3 separate regions of the Homo sapiens genome follow, and regions 2 and 3 are each linked to region 1. Evidence: fine-mapped expression QTL. A gene starts in region 1. Each other region holds a variant in brackets. All regions are shown on one strand. Distances are between the middles of the regions.

Region 1 (2,754 bases):
CTCCCAGGTTCAAGCGATTCTCCTGCCTCAGCCTCCTGAGTAGCTGGGACTACAGGCATGAGCCACTACACCTGGCTAATTTTTTGTATTTTTAGTAGAGACAGGTTTCACCATGTTGGCCAGGCTGGTGTTGAATTCCTGAGTTCAAGTGATCCACCCACCTCGGCCTCCCAAAGTGCTGGAATTACAGGTGTTAGCCACCGCGCCCAGCCAAGATACAGAACTGTTCTATCACAAAGGTCTCATCTGGACTCTTGATGTTTCTCAACGTGCAACACTTAGGCACATCAGAATCAGTTGAGTCATTTGTTAAATGTGCAGATTCCTCCCAGCTCAGCTGCTGAACCAGTGTGGGGCAAGGAGGCTGGGAATCTGGCCTTTACTTGAACTGGCCGTCATTTCTATCCATCCTCCACTTTGTGGCCGCCAAGAGGATCCTCCTAAGACACAGCTCCCACCGTGTTTTTTCTGCCGCTTAAAGCTGTGTAGTGGCGCCCCCTGCTTTCAGGGTAGAGAAACCAAAGCCTTAGCAAACAAAGCCTTCTCCAGGCCCCACCTCCCTTCTTCCACTCACCCCACCCACTACGCTTCAATCCCTCCAAACCTCTCTAATTCCCAGGACGCCTTTGTTTTCATCAGGCTCATTTTGTTCATGCCGTTCCCTCTGCCTGGAATGTCCTGCCCACTCTTTTCTGCCTATTGCAACCCTATTCCACCACCCATTCTTACAGATGAGGACTTGGAGGTTGAGAGAGGTTTGGTGTCACCCAGCAAGTAAGGGCAGGGCGCAGTGGAGGCCCCAATCCACCTGACTCCCAGGCTCCTGGTCTTACTGTTCGCCAGCTGTAATGGAGGCGCTGGGGGAGGCCATGGTCCCTCTTCGGAGCTGTCTGCTCACCTCCACTTGGGCCTGCCTCCCCATCCACCTCTCAGGCATCTCACCAGGACCGTTCCTCTTCTTCCCCTCCCAGCGAAGCCGGGCAGGGATGAGGGGTCTGAGATGAGGGAGGAAGGGAAATGGGATTGAGCCCAGGGGTAACCTGACTCCCTGCAGTGGGTCGTGTGGGGGCCAGGCACACTACGGAGGGGAAAGCCTGGAACAAATACCGAGGGACTCCCTTAAGCCGGGCCGGCGATGGGGGCTCCTGGAGGGAGAGAAGGAGCCAAGTGGAGTCAAGTCCCTCCCCTGCTGCCCCCTCCCTCCACGGCTCCCTCGCAACCCGAGCCGGGGGGCCTAAAAATAGCCCCCAGGCGCAATCGCCGGCCGCCCCGGTGACCTTCTGGGTAGCACAGGCCGAAGGCGGGCGGGCAGCAGGAAGGCAGGCCGCCGGCCCCCCAGACTTGTCTCCTAGGGCACCGTCCCGCGGGTGCCCCCGTGGCCGCCCAGTTCCGGCGTCCCCCCAGCCCAGCTCTCAGTGGCCATGCAGAAAGCCCGGGGCACGCGAGGCGAGGATGCGGGCACGAGGGCACCCCCCAGCCCCGGAGTGCCCCCGAAAAGGGCCAAGGTGGGGGCCGGCGGCGGGGCTCCTGTGGCCGTGGCCGGGGCGCCAGTCTTCCTGCGGCCCCTGAAGAACGCGGCGGTGTGCGCGGGCAGCGACGTGCGGCTGCGGGTGGTGGTGAGCGGGACGCCCCAGCCCAGCCTCCGCTGGTTCCGGGATGGGCAGCTCCTGCCCGCGCCGGCCCCCGAGCCCAGCTGCCTGTGGCTGCGGCGCTGCGGGGCGCAGGACGCCGGCGTGTACAGCTGCATGGCCCAGAACGAGCGGGGCCGGGCCTCCTGCGAGGCGGTGCTCACAGTGCTGGAGGTCGGAGGTAAAGGGCAGGTGGGGGCCGCGCCCGGCAGGGGCGGGGTGCTCAGAGGTAGAAAAGGGCTGCCCAGGCCACGCGGGTAAGGTACTGGATACTGGTTCCGCCGCCTTCTTCCCAGGTGCCCTGGCTTCTCGGCTGCCCGGCCCCAGAAGTGAGACGAAGAGCCAAGTGCAGGGAATGGGGTGTCAAGGTAGAGAGGCTCCCCACAGGAAGGTCAGAGGTCAAGGGGCAGCAAGCGGTTGATAAGCCAAGCCTGAGACCCACTCCCACCTCTCAGGGAATTCTGGGGTGGAAGTTCTTCTCCTCCTGTGGAGAAAAGCCTCCTGGGGGAAAGGGTGTCCTTCAGTTCCATGATTTAAACTTGAGATTGACACTCCGATCAGCTCCTTAACAGGGGAGTCCATGTCCGAAGGAGGGGGCCAGCTCCTCTGGTCCAGGCTGCACTGTTGAAGGGATGGCTCAGAGCTCCCTGCAGGCCATTGCCGTGGCAGGGTTGATGTGGTCAGCTCTAGGTGGGGTGTGGAAGAGGCCTATGGTTGGCCACGTGTGAACAGGGTCCAGGGTAGGAGGAGGTGGAGCCCGAGCCAGGGCCCCATGGGCATGAATGGAGGTGAGTGCTTGAGAATCCACATGCAGGTGTGTGCCTGCATGGGTGCTGTGGAGGGCCCTGGATTCTGTGTGGTGGTGCAAACAGGTGAGGTATGGGCACGTGGAGCTGGAATGGGAAGCTCCTGGACCATGTCTACCTGAGCTTCCAGAGTGGATGTTTCCAGAGCATGGAAGGGGGATGCTATGGACCAGTGCTTGTCCCCCGCCCATAGATTTCCAGGTGCAGTGTGAAGAAAAGGCTGAGGGTCTGAGGCAGAAGGGGAGGGCAAGAGGCTGGGCCCAGTGCTCATGGTCCAGCTGGGGCTACCATGGAGGCCAGGCCAGGGCCGTTAGCCTTGG
Region 2 (2,754 bases), 32 kb after region 1:
CTGTATTAACCCATGTCTTGGTGCTTCTTTCTCTTGGGGATTCCTTCCGACACCCCCAGGCTTTGGGGTGCTCCTGATCCCATGAATGCCTGGTTGCCCGGGGTCTCTGCCTGCCCAGGAACCCCGAGGAACCAGTCTCTGGCTAGCTGCCGGCCCTCGCAGCCCAGAGCTGTCCTTGGGGGAGCCAAGAGTGGCAGTGCTGCCCTGACGGTGTGAGAGGCAGCCCTCTATGCAGAAGGGCCCTAGCCAGGTCTGCGTGCCTGTGCGTGCATGTGTGCGTGTGCGTGCGCATGCGTGCGTGTATGTGCATGCATGTGTGTGCATGTGTGTGCGTGTGTGCGTGCGTGTGCATGTGTGCGTATGGGTGTGTGCATGCGTGTGTGTGTGCGCGCGTGTGCGTGCACGTGTGCGTGCATGTGTGCGTGTGCATGCGTGTGTGTGCATGTGTGTGTGTGCGCGTGCGTGCGCGTATGCTGCACTAACCTGCCGCTTGCTGACTGAGGTTTTTGTCTGTACACAGGCGAGTGAGCTCAGGGGGCCACCTGTGCTCCCCCCGCTACCCTCCGAGCCGCGCCCCTGTCTCAGGCACCTCTCGGACCTCGCTGTGTTTCACTGCCTCCTGCCCACAGACCCAGGCCTGCCGGCCCGGACCCGTCCCAGCCTCCCCTCCCCACCCCATGCAGCCCCCAGGGGGATAGCCCATGGGCCCCTGTGGACCCTCCCTCCCCAAGTGGACACATGGCTGTGCAGGCCAGGAGGCCCACAGATGGACTGAGTGCTGGGAAGGGGCGGCTGCGAGGGGTATCAACCCCCCGAGTCTCTCCCTGAAGGGGAGCACCGGGCGAGTGCATGTGCTACTGCTGCTACAGGCCTGTCTATCTGTTTGTCTGTCTGTGTGTCTGTGACAGTCAGGGAAGGATGCCTCGGAGCTGAGGTGGGGTGAGACAGAGTGGGAGAGATTACGGCATGGCATGGAGGGGCCCAAGGAGCAGGGGCTGTTGACAAAGGCCTTACCAGGAAGGGTTAGGACACTGACCATTCTAGAAATGGGTTTCGAATGGCACAACACTTTCTATTTCACAAAAGACCAAAAGCCAGAGGCCCCAGGCTCTGTGCTGATGAACAGCCTGGCTGAGCCCTGGCCCTGGCAGGTTTAGGGCCCATTTGGGGCCCCCTCCTTCTCTGTCAGGGCTGGGGTGCTCTGTCTGGGAATGAGGGAGTTAACCAAGTTTGGTGCAGGAGCAGGGGCAGGGGGCCACTGTAGTGAGCGTGGAGAAATTTGGAAACACCTATTTCTTAACTCAAATAAAGTCCAGTTTGTACCTATCTGGTGTGTTGTGTTTTTTTTTCCCCCGCCGATGTCTCTGCCACCACGTGGCCCTCTCAGTTTCCCCTCCCTCAGTTCCCTCTTGCCTCCATGAATCACCCTCCCTGGCCCAGCTTGGATTGCCATCTCAAAGCCAGGTCTGGGCATGCCTTGCTGTCCTGGCCAGGTGGGTGGGCTTTCCCCATCTCCAGAGAACAAAATGCATCTCTCTCTCTGTGTCTGTCTGTCTCTCTGTGCGTGCGTATGTGTGTCTCCCTCACCCTGTGTGTCTCTGCTCTGTGCGTGGCCCCCGTGGCTGCTTTCCCCTCAGCACACCCTGAAAGCC[G/A]GTCCCTGGCCGTGCTGGCCCCCCTGCAGGACGTGGACGTGGGGGCCGGGGAGATGGCGCTGTTTGAGTGCCTGGTGGCGGGGCCCACTGACGTGGAGGTGGATTGGCTGTGCCGTGGCCGCCTGCTGCAGCCTGCACTGCTCAAATGCAAGATGCATTTCGATGGCCGCAAATGCAAGCTGCTACTTACATCTGTACATGAGGACGACAGTGGCGTCTACACCTGCAAGCTCAGCACGGCCAAAGGTAACTCCCCACTCAGGCATTGGGCTGCCGTGGGTGCCCAAGAGCTGGAGGGAGGGGACTGGGGGTGTACAGTAAGATGCCTGGGAAACAGAGCTCCAACCCCGAGGGGAAGCGGGGGAGGGTGGGAGCTAGTACATTGCCTTGGCCTCAATAAAATAAGCACTTAGAATAGTGCATAGCACAAAGGAAAGGCCGCAACAGGGTTAACTGTTCCTAGGAGGGAGTGCATCTGCTGAGGTGAACGTGGGTTCCCACGCCTGCCCTGCAAGTCACCAGCCATATAACTTTGAACAAGTCACTTCATCTCTCTGAGCTTTAGCCTGTTCATCTGTAGAACAGGGATGGTGATCATTCCTCCTCTGTAGAGGGATTGGCAGGATTAATGAGATAGTTTATGTGAAGAACAAAGCACAGGGCCTGTCAAAGGGCCTTTCCAGGAGAGGGTAGGGCACTGAGCATTCCAGAAATGGGTTTCAAATGGCACACCTGCCTAATAAATGCCAGCCATTGTTACCACTGATGCTATCTCTGACCTGGGCCTGCCCACATGGAAGGGCAGAGATTATGGCACCTGCCTTGCTACGTTGTGGGTGATGAAGACCTAAGCGGAAGCTGGAGGGGCTTTAGAAGCAGGAGGGTGCATCGGGTCAACATAAGGGACCCTTATCTCCTCCAGAAGCTTCTTTGAGGGTTGGTAGGTGGGGCCAAGGGGCATCTGCTCTGGGTCTGGGGAAGGTGGCTAGGAGCATGGGCATGACCCCAGCACAGAGGAGAATTCTGAGAAGTAGATGGAGGAGGGGTGGGCTTGGCTTCTAGGACCCTATCAGAGCTGGGCTGTGCTTCATCCAGGGTGGGC
Region 3 (2,754 bases), 38 kb before region 1:
TGCTTAGGGAGGCCAATCCTCCTCTCCTAGCGCCAGTGTCATCTCCTGTCTTAGGATCCACAGGAAGAAGTCTCTGTCAACTGGAAGTAACCTGCTGGCCTGTGACATGTAATCAATTTTACTTTGCTGCTGCAATCCTCAGTGCCTGGCAGGTAGTGGATATACAATAAACACTTACTGAATTAAAGAAATTTTGAAAAATAATTGTTCTTTGTGAAAAAGGGCCCTCATGGGATAATACTCAGCGATAAAAAGGAACGAGTGGTTGCTAAATGCAACGCTGTGGATGGATCTCAGGTGCCTTATGCTGAGTGAAAAAAATGACAAAATTATAGAGATGGAGAACAGATTAGTGGTTGCTCAGGGCTAGGGAGGATTTGGGGAGGGATGTGTGACTATGAAGGAGTAGCTCAGGAATATCTTGATGGTGATGGATAGTTCTATGTCTTGATTATAATGGTGGTTATGACTCTAACCATGATAAAGTTAGGGTTGCCAAATGAAATACAGAATGCCCAGTTTAATTTGAATTTAAGATAAACAAGGGCTGGGCGTGGGTGGCTTACACCTCTAATCCCAGCACTTTGGGAGGCCAAGGCAGGCGGATCACTTGAGGTCAGGAGTTCGAGACCAGCCTTACCAACATGGTGAAGCCCCATCTCTACTAAAAATACAAAAATTAGCCAGGCATGGTAGCGGGCACCTGTAATCCCAGCTACTAGGGAGGCTGAGGCAGGAGAATCGCATGAACTTGGGAGGTGGAGGTTGAAGTGAGCTGAGATCGTACCACTACACTCTAGCCTGGGCAACAGAGCAAGACTCCATCTCAAAAAAAAAGAAAAAAAAAGATAAGGAATAATCTTTTCAGTATAAGTATGTCCCAAATATTGCATGGGATATGCTTATACTAAAAACAAAATTTAACTGAGTTTCCTGTATTTTCATTTGCTAAATCTGGCAAACCTAGAAAAAAATAGCATCAAACCCTACGCACACACATTTTACCTGTGTCACTTTCCTGAGTGTAATACTGTGCTGTGCTTATCTAAGATGTAACCATCTGGGGAAACTGAGTGGAGGGCACACAGACCTCCATGTACAATTTCTGCAACCTCTTGGGAAGGTAAAATTATTTCCAAATAAAAAGGTTTTCAGAATGGCCCTCAAAGGAAAACCAACTGCTCCTGTTAGTGATGAAAACAAAGAGGTATAGGAAAGTGCTGGTTACTAACCTTGCAAGTTTTATGGAACACTGTAAAACTGGCACTTCACAAAGGTCTTAAGATGTATCCCCCTTGAATGTCAATGCTCTTGTATAGTTAGTGACAGTATAACAAAGTGGTTATGAGCGTGGGCTCAGGATCCACACACCGGGCTCACATCCTGGCTCCTGCATTTATTAGCTGTGGGTCGTATTTGCCGTGTTGTGCCAGAGCCAGCCCCCCTCCCCTCCCCTCCCACCCCCGTCTCTTTCCTGTTCCACATTCAGAGACATCAGACAGGAAGCTTGAGACAGGCCTGCAAGTATTTACACCACTGAGA[C/T]TGGCAAACACTACAAATCAGGGCATTTTTTTTTTCTTCCAGAGAGCTAATTGGTTTTTTGTTTTGTTTTGTTTTATTTTTTGAGACAGAGTTTTGCTCTGTTGCCCAGGCTGGAGTACAGTGGCGTGATCTTGGCTCACTGCAACTTCAGCCTCCTGGATTCAAGTGATTCTCGTGCTTCAGCCTTCCAAGTAGCCTCCATATGATCAAGAATGTGGGTGGAATAGGTTTGGGGAACAAGGAGTTCAGATTAAGACATTACACTGGAGATTCCTATTAGGCCCACACGGACACTGTGCAAAAACAATTGGATATGTGAGATTATATATAGTTCAGAAGAGATATCTGGGCTGGGGGTATGTAAATTTGACAATTATCGGGGTACAGATGCTATTTAAAGTCATGAGATTGGAGATTAGCAAGGGTTACAGGCATGTGCCACCATGCCTGGCTAATTTTTGTATTTTTAGTAGAGACAAGGTTTTGCCATGTTGGCCAGGCTGTTCTTAAACTCCTGACCTCAAGTGATTCACCCGCCTCGGCCTCCCAAAGTGCTGGGATTACAGGCATGAGCCACTGTGCCTGGATGCTTTTCTTTTTTTTTTAATTTTTAATTTTAGATGGAGTTTCAGTATGTTGCCCGCACTGGCGGCAAACACCTGGGCTCAAGCAGTCCTCCCATCTTGGCCTCCCAAAGTGTTAGGATTACAGTTGTGAGCCATCACACCTGGCCCAGAGAGCTAGCTGTTAAACATCTACCATCACACCACAGACTTAGAGCCTTAGCTTCCTCATCTGTAAACCGGTGGAAGATAGTCATAACCTCATAATGTTATGAGGAGTAAATGGGATAATGCACGTAGGGTGCTCATCACTGAGTTCTTCAAATAGTTAAGTGGGCAGTACTTGTGAGCTAGTATTATCTCTCATTTTGAACCGTGAGCAACTTAAGGGCAGGTCGCTGCGCTAATCATCTTGATATCTTTAGTGCCTGGCCTGACATGTAGTAGGTTCTCAATGAATGTTTACTAAATTAGTGAATAAATGGCAAATAATAGTAACTTGGGGCCGGGCGCGTTGGCTCACGCCTGTAATCCCAGCACTCTGGGAGGCCAAGGCGGGTGGATCACCTGAGGTCAGGGGTTCGAGGCCAGTCTGGCCAACATGGTGAAACCCTGTCTCTACTAAAAATACAAAAATGAGCTGGGTGTG

The links. PIP is the estimated chance that this variant, and not a neighbour inherited with it, causes the effect.
Region 2: its variant is fine-mapped to the expression of SPEG in whole blood (TOPMed, PIP above 0.99).
Region 3: its variant is fine-mapped to the expression of SPEG in whole blood (TOPMed, PIP above 0.99).

What each region holds. Positions count from the first base shown.
Region 1 is chr2:219,433,557-219,436,310 of GRCh38, forward strand. It overlaps SPEG (striated muscle enriched protein kinase), which reads left to right and starts at 1,287. Exons shown (of 41, transcript NM_005876.5): 1 at 1,287-1,809. The coding sequence starts at 1,422.
Region 2 is chr2:219,465,537-219,468,290 of GRCh38, forward strand. It overlaps SPEG (striated muscle enriched protein kinase), which reads left to right. Exons shown (of 41, transcript NM_005876.5): 10 at 1,638-1,898. Among named protein-coding and RNA genes, the nearest start is that of SPEGNB, 29 kb to the right of the region's middle. RefSeq lists enhancers at 1-270, 271-936, 1,184-1,726. The variant G/A (reference allele first, on the strand shown) is at 1,653.
Region 3 is chr2:219,395,760-219,398,513 of GRCh38, forward strand. The region is part of intron 2 of DNPEP-AS1 (DNPEP antisense RNA 1); the gene reads left to right. It also overlaps a transcript of DNPEP not described here. Among named protein-coding and RNA genes, the nearest start is that of DNPEP-AS1, 8.6 kb to the left of the region's middle. The variant C/T (reference allele first, on the strand shown) is at 1,543.